Linked DNA regions of Homo sapiens. The protein of the gene in region 4 interacts with the protein of the main gene of each other region in a pairwise test. Each region holds a gene or a part of one and is shown on either strand. Other genes may lie near its edges.

Region 1 (2,307 bases), on a different chromosome or scaffold from region 4:
ACAGGTAAACTTCTTTTAGTGCTGCTAAATTAGATCATTGAACTAGCAAGGGGGCCAGTCCCTCCACTGCAGACACATTTGTCAGAACGGCACCTGGCAAGTTTGTGCTAATTATTGTGTATTCTCTGGTTATTGAAATTGCTTATTAAGCAGAATATAAAAGTCGGGTTATCTTGGCACTAAAACTACAATTTTAATTACGGAGGGTAATCCTAACAGTAAGGAGAAAAACACACTACCATAACCACATTTTGAGAGCTTTTAAGTGACAATGTAGCCGTTGATGTCCTCAGCCAGCCCACCAGATTTCTAATCTCTGAACACACGATTAACTTACCACCTGTATTCCATGTTGTATGTCAGCCTTGGCGTAAATTTATACTTTACAGCATTATACACCTAACAGCTTTTGGGCACCTACAGCAATAAAACACACAATATTGCTGAGTGCGTTAGTTAAGTTTCCACAATGTCAAACGTGAGCCCTTCGGAAGAAAACGTACGCGGCCCTGAAAAGGGCCATTAACGATATTGCAAGGAAAGGCCTGGCCTCACTTAACCGCCAAAGCCTTACAGGGTTCTTCCCTGGCGTTTGAGCACGTAGACCACGGCCATGGCGGTGACCGTCTTGCGCTTGGCGTGCTCCGTGTTGGTCACGGCGTACCAGATCACATTTTCCAGGAACACCTTGAACACCCGGCGGGTCTCCTCATAAATGAGGCCCAAGATGCGCTTGACACCGCCATGCCGGGCCAAGCGCCGGATAGTGCACTTGGTAATGCCCTGAATATTATCGCTCAGTACCTTGCGATGGCACTTGGCACCGCCTTTCCCAAGGCCTTTTCCGGCCTTGCCCCGAACAGACATGATAAACAAGTCAGAACTATCTCTAAACAAAACGATTACTCGCTTTCCGCAGCCTTTTATATAACGGTAGAGTAGACCTTTTTGAAAACTGAAAGACCAGGAAAGGCGGGAAAACGTATTCAGTCCCCGCTCATCTACTTCTAGTAATAACAAGACATAAGAAATTCTCTTGTAGTAGGGAGATTTGCTGGCATTTAGAGAATAAGGATCTCTAAACGAAAGTGTCAAACATGTACCTAGAGGAAAGTATCTCGATTTTTGATGTCTGTATGTGTTTAAAGATTTACTCCTGGCCGGGCGCGGTGGCTCACGCCTGTAATCCCAGCACTTTTGGAGGCCGAGGCGGGCGGATCACGAGCTCAGGAGATCGAGACCATCCTGGCTAACACGGTGAAACCCTGTCTCTAATAAAAATACAAAAAATTAGCAGGGCGAGGTGGCGGGCGCCTGTAGTCCCAGCTATGCAGGAGGCTGAGGCAGAAGAATGGCATGAACCCCGTGGGGTGGAGCCTGCAGTGAGCCGAGATCACGTCACTGCACTCTAGCCTGGGCAAGGGCGAAGCCCGTCTCAAAAAAGAAAAAAAAAAGATTTACTCCTTCCCTGTATATTAGAGCATTTACCATGCTGAAGTTGAAACAAGCCCAAATTCCAAGACATAAAAGAATTCCTAATCATATTGCCAAGCCGCCCAGCTAAAGAGAAGTAGCCTGGTTTTTGGTTTCGAATCTGTGAGTGACTGCTCTCTCACCGATATTAGACATGTTAATCTGAGTTTCAATGGCCCTATCTGTAAAAAGGGTAAATACTTGTTAATAATTGAGTTACTTTAAGCAAAACACTGGCATATAGTTAGTAAATGATTTTTTTTTAAAATACGGAGTTTCGCTCTTGTTGCCCAGGCTGGAGTGCAATGGCGCAATCTCTGCCCACTGCAACCTCCACCTTCTGGGTTCAAGCTATTCTCCTACCTCGGCCTCCCAAGTAGCTGGAATTACAGGTATGTGCCACCACTCCCGGCTCATTTTTGTATTTTAGTAGAGACCAGATTTCACGTTGGCCAGGCTGGTCTCCAACTCCTGCCCTCAGGTGATCCGCCCGCCTTGGCCTCCCAAAGTGCTGGGATTACAGGCGTGAGCCACCTCACCGGCCAGTTGGTAAACGAATTCTTATTGCCACAGCCTTTTTTTACAGACAAAATAATAATGCAGAGGTAAAGCACACCGAAGGATTTTAAAACATTGCCTTTGCAACACCAATACATTCAGTGTGCTTTCACTTATATTAAGCACTATACAATTAAGCAATGAAGAATTGCCCAGAAAAAAGATAATGTAAATTGCCAGAGGCTCCATGCCCTGTTCTCATGTGGAGGACAGAAGGTACAGGGGGTGACTGTCTTCTGGGGTTGATACAACAGGAAACTCAGGGAAAGCTGTCAT
Region 2 (3,500 bases), on a different chromosome or scaffold from region 4:
GAGTCTAAGGCAGCAGTGACCTATGACTGGCACCACTGCACTCCAGCCTAGGTGACACAGCGAGACCCTGTCTCAAAAAACAAAAAACAAGAAGGAAGTGCAAGATGACCAGGTGCAGGCTGTGGGTGGGACCTGGCGGCCTATGCACACAAAAGTCTCATGCGGGCGGAGGGCCGCCAACCTGTCTTCATTTGTCCAGGATCTTCCCAGTTTGGAAACCCCTCAGTCCCAGGCACACTGGCATGTGATCAGTCACTCTACACGTGGGAAAACTCACAGTCAAAGAGGCTGGTCCCACGGCTGCCCTGCTGTGATGTCAGCCAAGTGGAGTTCGGGAGGGAGTGCCAGGAGCCAGGAAGGGACCGGGCCCCTGAGGACACCGGCGTACTCTCTGCCAAGGCTGGGCAGCACCGTGTTCAGGTTCAATCCCTGCTCTGCTCCTTCCTACCCGAGTGGCCCTGGGCTAGCATATAACTTGAGTCCGTTTCCTCGGCTGTAAAATGAGGACAGTAACCATTCCTATTTTGTACAGATTTTGTGAGGCATTAAATTCAATACTGCATGAAGGGTATTTTGAGCTTAGTAAATGCTCAAAACATGTTAGCTGCTATTTCTGGCTCTTCTTGTAACATCAGCAACCCTTCCTCATTGCACGGATGAGCAAACAGAGGCTGGGAGGACTGAAGCCACCTGTCCGAGCTCTCACCATGGGGAAGGGCGATATGGGTGATGTGGACTCAGAGTCTGAAGCTGGGGTCGTTGAGCCCCTCCCCTGACCTCCTCAGGCTCTCCCTTCATAAAGGGGCCACAGCCTCCCTGCAGGGCCCTGCTCACCGGAGCTGGCCGCCATGGGTGCCTGGGGCTGGAGCTCATCTAGGACGATGGAGGCCATCAGCTTGCGCATGCCCAGCATCCCCGAGGCCAGGTGCGTTGCGTACATGTCTCTCACCTTGGGGGACTCAGTCCCAGTGATGGCATCATGGTGCTGGACCTGCAGCAACCCCCAGAGGGGAGGAAGAACAGGATCAGGACCTGACTCTGCAAAGCACCTACAAGGCACCTACTAGGCGCTGGCTCTCATTCTGGCTTGCCAGGTGCCAGTGGAGAAGGGGGCAGTCCCCGCCATTTTACAGAAGGAGGAACTGAGGCCAAGAGAAGCTGAGGAGCTCGCCCAACTTTTCCTGCCCTTGTGGGAACTCATTGTCCCCCATCTCTGGACCCCCTGCTCTGAAGGACCCTGAAGTCACCTCATTTCTCCCACAACATAATGACATGTTCTGCCAGCAGCTCCTTTTGGGGAACTGTTACAGTGTCATGGCTGGTGTGACCCTTTTTTGGATAGGTGACTGAGGACAAGTTACAGGCTGTCTTGGGTCTGTTTTCCCATCAGTACAGTAGGGGATGGGTGGAGACGGAAACTCATGAACTGGCTATTCAGCAGCCACTGCACCAAGCAGGCTGTGCACACCAGCACATCCAATTGCCCCACCGTCCTCCTGGGCAAGCTCGTTGTTCTCATTGTACAGGAGGGAATTAGGTCTTGGGTGGGTGTGGGAATCATGTGCCTGACATCACACAGCTGAGCCGAGATATGGATGCAGGCAGGGCTGTCGGACACAAATGCCACTCCACCTTGTCCTTTATCCCTTTTGCTAAACTGCTACAAAGCTTAATGAGGCCACCAGCTGGATGGATCAGGCTGTGGTCTCAGCCTTGGCCTGGGTTCACCATGCACTGGCCTTGTAACCAAAGGGAACCTCAGTTTCCCCTCTGTAAAGTGGGGCCTCTAGTGCCCCAGGGCTGGAAGGATTGGCTAGGACAAGGGAGGGGAGGTGCGCAGCATGGGAGGTTCCAATCCTGCCACTGTGGCTAAATGTGGTGTTACCTCGGAGACGGCCCAGCGAAGCTGCTGGAGCTGCTGCAGGGCCCAGGTGGGGTCCAGATGCCCACGGGGGGCCGGCCACAGGTAGCGTGTGAACATGGACTCCCCGGCATACAACAAGGCGCTGGCTCGCCGGGCCAGCCCCTTCAGTGAGCTGCGGGACGTGTAGAAGCCCGTCCAGGCCTGGAATGGTTCTGGGAGACAAGGGAAGATGGTGAGCTTGAGACGGCATGACCCAGAAGTCTGCTAAGCTCCAGCCCTGGAAGAGCTGAGAAGCTGGGGCTGCAGAGGCAGCCTCTGCCAGGGTCACCCAAGGAGGCAGGCCGGGCAGGCAGCGAGCCCAGGGCTTACGGCTCCCAACTCAGGCCTCCTCCCATAGCCAGACTAGGAACTGCCCAGAAAACCCTGGATGGGCCTTGGGCAGGGTGGGAGAGACAGGCTGCACTGGGGCAGGTGGGGTGGGGTGCTGAAGGATCCTGATCGGAGGCAAGCCCAGGGTGCCTAGGAAACACAGAACAGCTGTGTGAGCAAAGGGCCTGGGAGACCCAGAGGGGAAGAGGAGGAGCCAGGTGGGCAGGACCCCACTGAGAAGGGCCTAGACTGCACAGAGGCCTTCATGTGTGACGTGGGCATGGGGAGGCCAGGACAGGCATGCGTTTCAGCAGGGATTCTCTGGGCGTCCAGGGAGGATGGATGGTAGGAGGCAGCAAGGGCTCAGAGACCCCAGGGAGCCAGTGTCCTGATGCAAGACAGAGAGGATGAGGATGCCCAGGGCCCATGCAGGAGGCAGGAGGGCTGAACCCTCCCAGGGAGTGGCTGTCTGTCTCAGAAGGGAGCTTCCTATTGCTTTTGCTTTCCTGCTCCTCGGCGTCTGGGATGTGCCCAGATTTGCCTTGATTCCCTGTTCTTCCCCCACTGGTCCTGAACCAGACTGGGAGGGGTGGTCACATGGCCCAGGGGACAGGCCACACCCTGTGGGTCAGATGGGGTCCTCCACAGCTTTGCAGCCATGTTGAGAGTGGGTGGTGAGGCCCGATTCCATTCAGTCTGGCAGGGGCTCCACATCCTCAGTGGTCATCACGATACCATGCCCGCCTGGATACCACGCCCACCTGGACGCCACGCCCACCCACACCCGCCTGGATACCACGCCCACCTGGATACCACGCCCACCTGGACACCACGCCCACCTGGACAGAGCCACACCCAACTTGACTCGGGTATATCCCTACCTGCTAGATGTGGCCACACCCACAGTCACTACCCCACCCACCTCACCATTAGCCATGCCCACATTAACATATCTCCTCCTGCCTTGACTATAACCACACCCACATCCACGGACATCCCCCAACCCGTGTGTGCAGCCCCACCTGCCTCCAATGTGGTGTCAACAGCAGGAGCCGGGGACTATGCAGCCCCACTGGTCACCATGCAGACCCAGAGGCTGGGGCCCAGAGAGGCAGGACTAAGCCAGGTCATGGGTGAGTCAAGGCAGTGCCCAGGCCAGAATGAGCCCTGCAGCTGGAGTTCATCTGTGGCATCTCTTTGGAAGGGAAATGTTATGGTTTGAATGCCCCTCCAAAACCCATGTTAAAATTTAATTGCCATTGTGACT
Region 3 (2,931 bases), on a different chromosome or scaffold from region 4:
AAGCCCATAAGCACCATTTCAAATACTATGTCAATGTTAATTTGATTTTAATAAAGAACATTCTTAATATTAAATGAGCACTGTTTCATGTCTAAAACCGATTTTAAAGAGGTATCTGAAAATGTAGTATAAAGTTATTGCTTTCAAAGTTAAGTTGGCACAATCTATACAAGATTGAACTGAGACAAAAGGAAACCACACCAGTTAACATAACCAATCTTTGTCTTCTTTTAACATTTTATATATCTGGAAAAGCTATCCTTTTACAGTCTTAATAAAAGGGCTTTTTCCGCCATCTAGATACTTAGCTTCTTACATGTTAAGACACATCTAGGATATTACTATTTTTAACCACAGCAACAATTTTTTTTCCAAGTTAGGCAGTATAATAAATGCTTGAAAAACCTTGTGTGAGTTTTTGTGAAGTTCTGTAGGTATATTACTTTGCCAGATAATACAAAAAAAAAAAAAAATTCACAAAGCAAAACCAAGAGTATTTATTTTCATTATTTTAAAAAACTGCAACATTTATTTCACAATCCCTGGAACTGTAAAATAACTATTCTTTTAATTTACAGAATTGAGGGAAGTATTTTAAATGTCAAAATACACATGCTGAATGTGATTTAGCATATAAGCACCAAAAATCCCAAAAGTATACAAAGATTGTTTAAACATATAAGGTGCATTTATTCATGAATTAATTACATTCAGTTTGAAGGAAGAAACAGTACTCCAAAGTTCATCAATATTTAAGAAATTATCCGAATAGCTTCCAACTTGGTTTACAGCTAAATAACAGATACTGCTTTTAGGTTTTTTTATACAATGCATCTAAACTTTAGGTTCGAAATTTAAGTGCTGCCTTACACTGTGAATGGCAGTTTGATCACTAAATTTATGTTCCAGTTTGAGATACTTCATACACAACATATATTTAATGCCCTGAAAACTTCTGCTTAAAAACTGAGTTATTTAGTGAACATCTGAAGGTAACAAAAAAAGATAGATCTTCTATATTTTTATGTAGAATTGGGTATAAAGTCATTTGGGGTCAAACACAATTATTTTTTAAATGTTATCAGTCCGCCCAGTAATAAGAACTTTTGTAAATATGCCACTATAGCTTCGGGCAATAATTGCTATTATGAAGTTAGATAAACACAGGATTAATTTCTTGGTTTACAAATCAAAATTATTGTGATATTAAAGCATGCCTCCTTCCAAACCACTTGGTCAATGCTGATAACAATTAAGAAAAACGTATGCTAGTATTGCTCTAAATATACTGACTTAGCTGTCCTGAATGACCTAATTAGGTTGGGGAGGGGACTTGGCCTGGTTCTCCAGTTCTGTGAAGCTGCCACCTCCAGCCTCACTCTAAATAGCTTATACAAAATCAAGTTATTCCCATAGCTAACACAAATCCAGCAAGCTGTGGTCCTAAATGCCATCTACATTTATATATTTACTTTTTTACTGTGTACATTAAGAATTTTGTTGTGCTTTTCACATATCCGATGTATGTTTTCATATTAAACATTCCTCAGTTTCTTGGGAAGGAAAGAAAAAGATCATGAAAAGAGGTACATCAGGAGAGTCGGACTGTAAAGTAACATTACACACACAACTAGCCAAATCTCTTTTTAATTTAAAAGATAATGTCATCACAACGCAACATATAGAAACATAAAAGAAAATAAAGTATCCACCCTAAAATCCCTATTATTCCATGATATTTTCATAGCAACTAGTATATATATCAATATATTTTTCACAAACCATTCAGTTACACATTGTGTATGCTTTTAGAATTTAAAATATGTATTACCATAGCAGTCTAAACATTGTACTTTTAGGGAAATGTGCGGAGACATGGTTCAGTGATTTGATCATTGTGATGATTATTTACAATGCTATCTATTTACGTTAGCAATAAATAATCCTGATATCAAAAGAGACAATACTCATGCACACACCAAGATGGCTGCATGCTCTTAAAATATTTACACATAGCTCTGCCATTTATAGCTCTCCCATTAAGAGTGAAAGTGCGCTTTCTTCAATTCTCTCCACATTTCCATTAGTCTTGCTTCTGGGGGATGCATCCTTCCATTTCTACAACTTCAGGCCATCCTTCATATTTGTTTGTATCCTTATTGTTCTTTATGTGCTATTGGAACACAGTAATAATATACAGTTTAAAAAACCGTTGTAAACTGCTGATTTGCCGTAACATTTTACACACTTCTCATTTCAGTAATACTCATGTCAACAATAAGTTCATTTAAATTACTGGTCAAGATATTAAATGAGTGACCCTCAGGCTGTATCACATACATGGCAGACCTTCAAATAACAGCTGAAAGAATACATTGCACGTGCTTTTAAAGGATTATTTGCTACTCAAAAACTAACATTTACATTCTACTAAGTTCTAAAATATTTCCAAACTTCACTGATTCTAAAATCCAAAGCTCAATTAAAATCCTTAATAACTAAAGCTTCCGAAAAGGCTTAAGATAGGTAATCCTATTCCAATGCATTGTCCTGTAGGAAAAAATATTCCCATGCAGAATTTTCAAGTTTTGAAATTTAAAAGTACGATAGTTATTTCAAATAACTGATTACCAAGAATTTATGACAAATATATGATCATATTTACTATCCGCTTTATCTAATTTTCAAATAGCTGGGATGGGAAAATGTACCGTAAGGTTTCACAGAATTTGTTTTTGTTAATTCTGAGAGTCTATGACACTAACCTGTTCAAAAGGGCTTTTTGTCTTAATGCCCTTCCCACCACAGAAGACCCAGTTGTCTCTAAAACCAAGATTAGTAATAGATGTGCTCCCCAAATCAGCAATGAGCCGCCGTGCCTCATCATTGAGTCTTGAAGAGGGAGAGAAAGAATACAACAATAAACAGAGG
Region 4 (3,500 bases):
AACAGAGAAAGACCCTGTCTCTAAGAAAAATTTAAAAAATTGAAATGTAAGAACAGTCATGAAGCCAGATTGCCCAGGTTTTGCCCCTTACTACTGTGTGATTTTTGGCTGATTAACCTGATTATTATTTTCCCCATCTAAAAGCGAAGATGATGACAATAGTGTCTGCCCCATAAACTATCATGAAGATTACATAAGTTCACATACTTATGTGCTTATAAATAGTACCTGGTACTAAAAGTATAAAATAAATGTTATCTATTATTATCTTTTTTTTTTTTTTGGAGGCAAGGTCTCAGTCTATCTTCCAGGCTGGAGTGCAGTGGCATGATCACAGCTCACTGCAGCCCCAACCTCCTGGGCTCAAGCGATCCTCCTACCTCTCAGCCTCCTGAGTAGCTGGGACCACAGGTATGCACCACCATGCCTGGCTAATTTATTAAATCTTTTGTAGAGACGGGGGTCTCCCTGTGTTGCCCAGGCTGGTCTTGAACTCCTGGGCTCAAGCAATCCTCCCACCTCGGCCTCTCAAAGTGTTGAGATTATAGGCATGAGCCACATGCCCAGCCCAATTATCATTATTATTACAAGATCTTTATTACAAGGCTGAGATACAGACGCTAGCTGGCTGAACTTCTGGCTCCTGTTTACCAACTTTCTAGCCCACTCAATTCAGACCCTTGCTAGCTCTTTTCATCATCCTATGAGGCGTGAATTATTTGCCCTGTTGCAAATTCTTACAGTGCTGTCTGAAAAAGAGATATGCTAGTGTAATCTAGAAACTGGAAGAGCACTGTAGAGACAAATAATTCGGGATTTTAATGACTCTCTTGCAGGGAGAAAGGCAATTGAACAGGATGACTCACAAGGTTTATACTGAAAAAGCTTAGAGCTTTTTCTAAGCGCTTAGATTATTTTTTAGTGACCAGCTCTATAAAAGCAGTGATCAGAGCCCATGCTAGCTAGACCTAAAAAGTAATAGTTGTAACACAGATGTATTTAAACTGTGATAAAAAAATTAGACTATACACATGAAATTGGTTTGAATTACCTCGGCTTTAGAGAGCTGCCTGTCATTGTCCATGTCTATTTGTTTAAATGTCTCAATGCTCCGTGGTCCTTTGGTCACAGCATAAAGTTCAATCTCAAAAATCAATGTAGCATCCGGTGGAATCTTGCCTTCTGCTAAGGGTATAAATTTTAACAGTTTAACTTATGTAAAGATATAGTTCAAATATCTATTCATGAACTGCCATAACCATATTATATTATTTCATGTTGATAAGAATTGCTATCTGAATACTCACAATTTTTAATTTTTTCTCATCTTTTATAACTTTTTTCGGCTTTTCAATAGTTTTCTTTTTTGTTTTTTTTTCTCTTTTTTTTATAAATACTTTTTTAGGAATATTTTTTCCATATGTTTCCAAACCAAGTCAATTCAAAGGACCTATGGGACCACTATTTCTTGATTAATTTAAGTAAAAATCATAAACTTTTTATTAATGCATGGATATGACCCTCTATATCTGTGGGTTCTGCATCTGTGGATTCAACCAGTCTCGGCTTGAAAATATTCATACAAAAAAAGGATAGTTGTGTCTGTAATAAACATGTACAGACTTTTGTCTTGTCATTATTCCCTAACCAATACAATATAACAATCTTTTACATAACATTTACATTGTATTAGATATTATAAGTAATCTAGAGATAATTTAAAGTACACCGGAAGATGTCCAGAGGTTATGTGCAAATGTGATGCCATTTTGTATCAGGGGCTTGAGCTTCTGTGGATTTTGGAATCCATGAGAAGGTCTTGGAACCAATCTCTAACAGGTACTGAGAGACAACTGTACTCTCCTATCATCAACACAGAAGAGAGGTGGCACAGAGAAGAAATGCATGGGCAGAAAAATTGCAAAGCATAGATGAGTCATCTTTTAGAAAGTGATTTTGTGTAGTTATTTGGAAGCATAAATAAAACATAAGTATTAATATATTTGTCTTTCAAATTTTTTATAGACATTAAAAAATAAGTGCAATGATAGAAAAATCCAGTAACAGGCTGGGCACAGTGGCTCACACGTGTAATTCTAGCACTCTGGGAGACCGAGACAGGAGGATCACTTGAGCCCAGGAGTTTGAGACCAAACTGGGCAACATAGTGAGACCCTGTCTCTATTAAAAAAAAAAAGAATTAAAATAAAAATTCAGTAACAATTTTACAAAGAAATTGTATACATTTTTAAGCAATAAGTTGAATACCTATTTTTATTTTTATTTATTTTTTTTGAGACGGCGTCTCACTCTGTTTCCCAGGCTGGAGTGCAGTGGTGCAATCTCCGCTTACTGCAGCCTCTGCCTCTTGGGTTCAAGCCATTCTCCTACCTCAGCCTCCTGAGTACCTGGGATTACAGGTGCACACCAGGCATTGCATTATTAGTAGAGATGGGGTTTCACTATGTTGGCCAGGCTAGTCTTGAACTCCTGACCTCAGGTGATCCGCTTGCCTTGGCCTCCCTAAGTGCTAGGATTACAGATGTGAGCCACTGTGCCTGGCCAGAATTGCTCTCTTTAATTAAGTTAACCTATTAGCTGATGTCACAGATTTTTTTTTTTTTTTTAGACAAGAATCTTCCTCTGTCACCCAGGCTGGAGTGCAATGGCACGATCTCGGCTCACTGTAACCTCTGCCTCCCAGGTTCAAGCAATTCTCCTGCCTCAGCCTCCCGAGCAGCTGGGATTACAGGTGCCTGCCACCAATCCTGGCTAATTTTTTATACTTTATTAATAGAGATGGGGTTTCACCATGTTGGCCAGGCTGGTCTCAAACTCCTGACCTCAAAGGATCCACCCACCTTGGCCTCCCAAAGTGCTGGGATTACAGGCGTGAGTCACCGTGCCAGGCCATGATGTCACAGGTGATTTTAATAAGTGATGGGCTATTTCAGATAAATATGTCATAAAAGTGACTTGCAAAAATGACTTGCTAAGGGGCAGCGGGTAGCTTGTGTCATCAGTATATTGCCAGTGTCCTACACAGTGCCTAATCTACTACAGGCAGTCCAATATTTGCCGAATGAATGACCCATATCATTTATTTTTAAAATGTTTGTCCTTGGAAGGAAACAGCAATTTCTTTAATAAAAAAGTGAAGCATTCTAGCTAAAGTCTTTATATAGTCTGAAGAGAAAAGAGTTTGTGAGTTATAGCCAAAAGGAGTAGCAGATTAGTAGTTTTCAAAGAGAAAACATAGAAAGATCTACCCATGCATCATATGACTAACATAAAAGTCCTAACCTAATGCACCACATATTACCTGACTTTAGAGTAGAAGAGCTAGAGATTGAGTCAATGATTGTTTTATAAAACCCATTCCTATTTTTTCCAGTTATCTCCTTATGACAGAATTATTGTCTCCTGACAATAATTCAAGGCAAACTCAAAACACAAATTCAAATTTCTTTTCTTTTCGTTTTTTTTTTTTTTTGAGACAG

What was found. Proteins that work in one complex are often made in the same cells at the same time.
Region 1: the proteins of FKBP7 (region 4) and H4C7 interact in binary tests that used the Homo sapiens proteins (3 or more experiments, as listed by UniProt).
Region 2: the proteins of FKBP7 (region 4) and MAN2B2 interact in binary tests that used the Homo sapiens proteins (3 or more experiments, as listed by UniProt).
Region 3: the proteins of FKBP7 (region 4) and FAM3C interact in binary tests that used the Homo sapiens proteins (3 or more experiments, as listed by UniProt).

What each region holds. Positions count from the first base shown.
Region 1 is NC_000006.12:26,246,111-26,248,417, forward strand, and holds H4C7 (histone H4-like protein type G), read right to left. Parts: upstream 887-2,307; 5' UTR 868-886; coding exon 571-867; 3' UTR 501-570; downstream 1-500. UniProt on the Homo sapiens protein: Core component of nucleosome. Nucleosomes wrap and compact DNA into chromatin, limiting DNA accessibility to the cellular machineries which require DNA as a template.
Region 2 is NC_000004.12:6,595,689-6,599,188, reverse strand, and holds part of MAN2B2 (epididymis-specific alpha-mannosidase isoform 1 precursor), read right to left. Parts: intron 2,077-3,500; coding exon 1,886-2,076; intron 992-1,885; coding exon 835-991; intron 1-834.
Region 3 is NC_000007.14:121,348,378-121,351,308, forward strand, and holds the end of FAM3C (protein FAM3C precursor), read right to left. Parts: intron 2,893-2,931; coding exon 2,766-2,892; intron 2,174-2,765; coding exon 2,084-2,173; 3' UTR 501-2,083; downstream 1-500. UniProt on the Homo sapiens protein: May be involved in retinal laminar formation. Promotes epithelial to mesenchymal transition.
Region 4 is NC_000002.12:178,468,601-178,472,100, forward strand, and holds part of FKBP7 (peptidyl-prolyl cis-trans isomerase FKBP7 isoform a precursor), read right to left. Parts: intron 2,925-3,500; exon of another isoform or gene 2,837-2,924; intron 1,186-2,836; coding exon 1,052-1,185; intron 1-1,051. UniProt on the Homo sapiens protein: PPIases accelerate the folding of proteins during protein synthesis.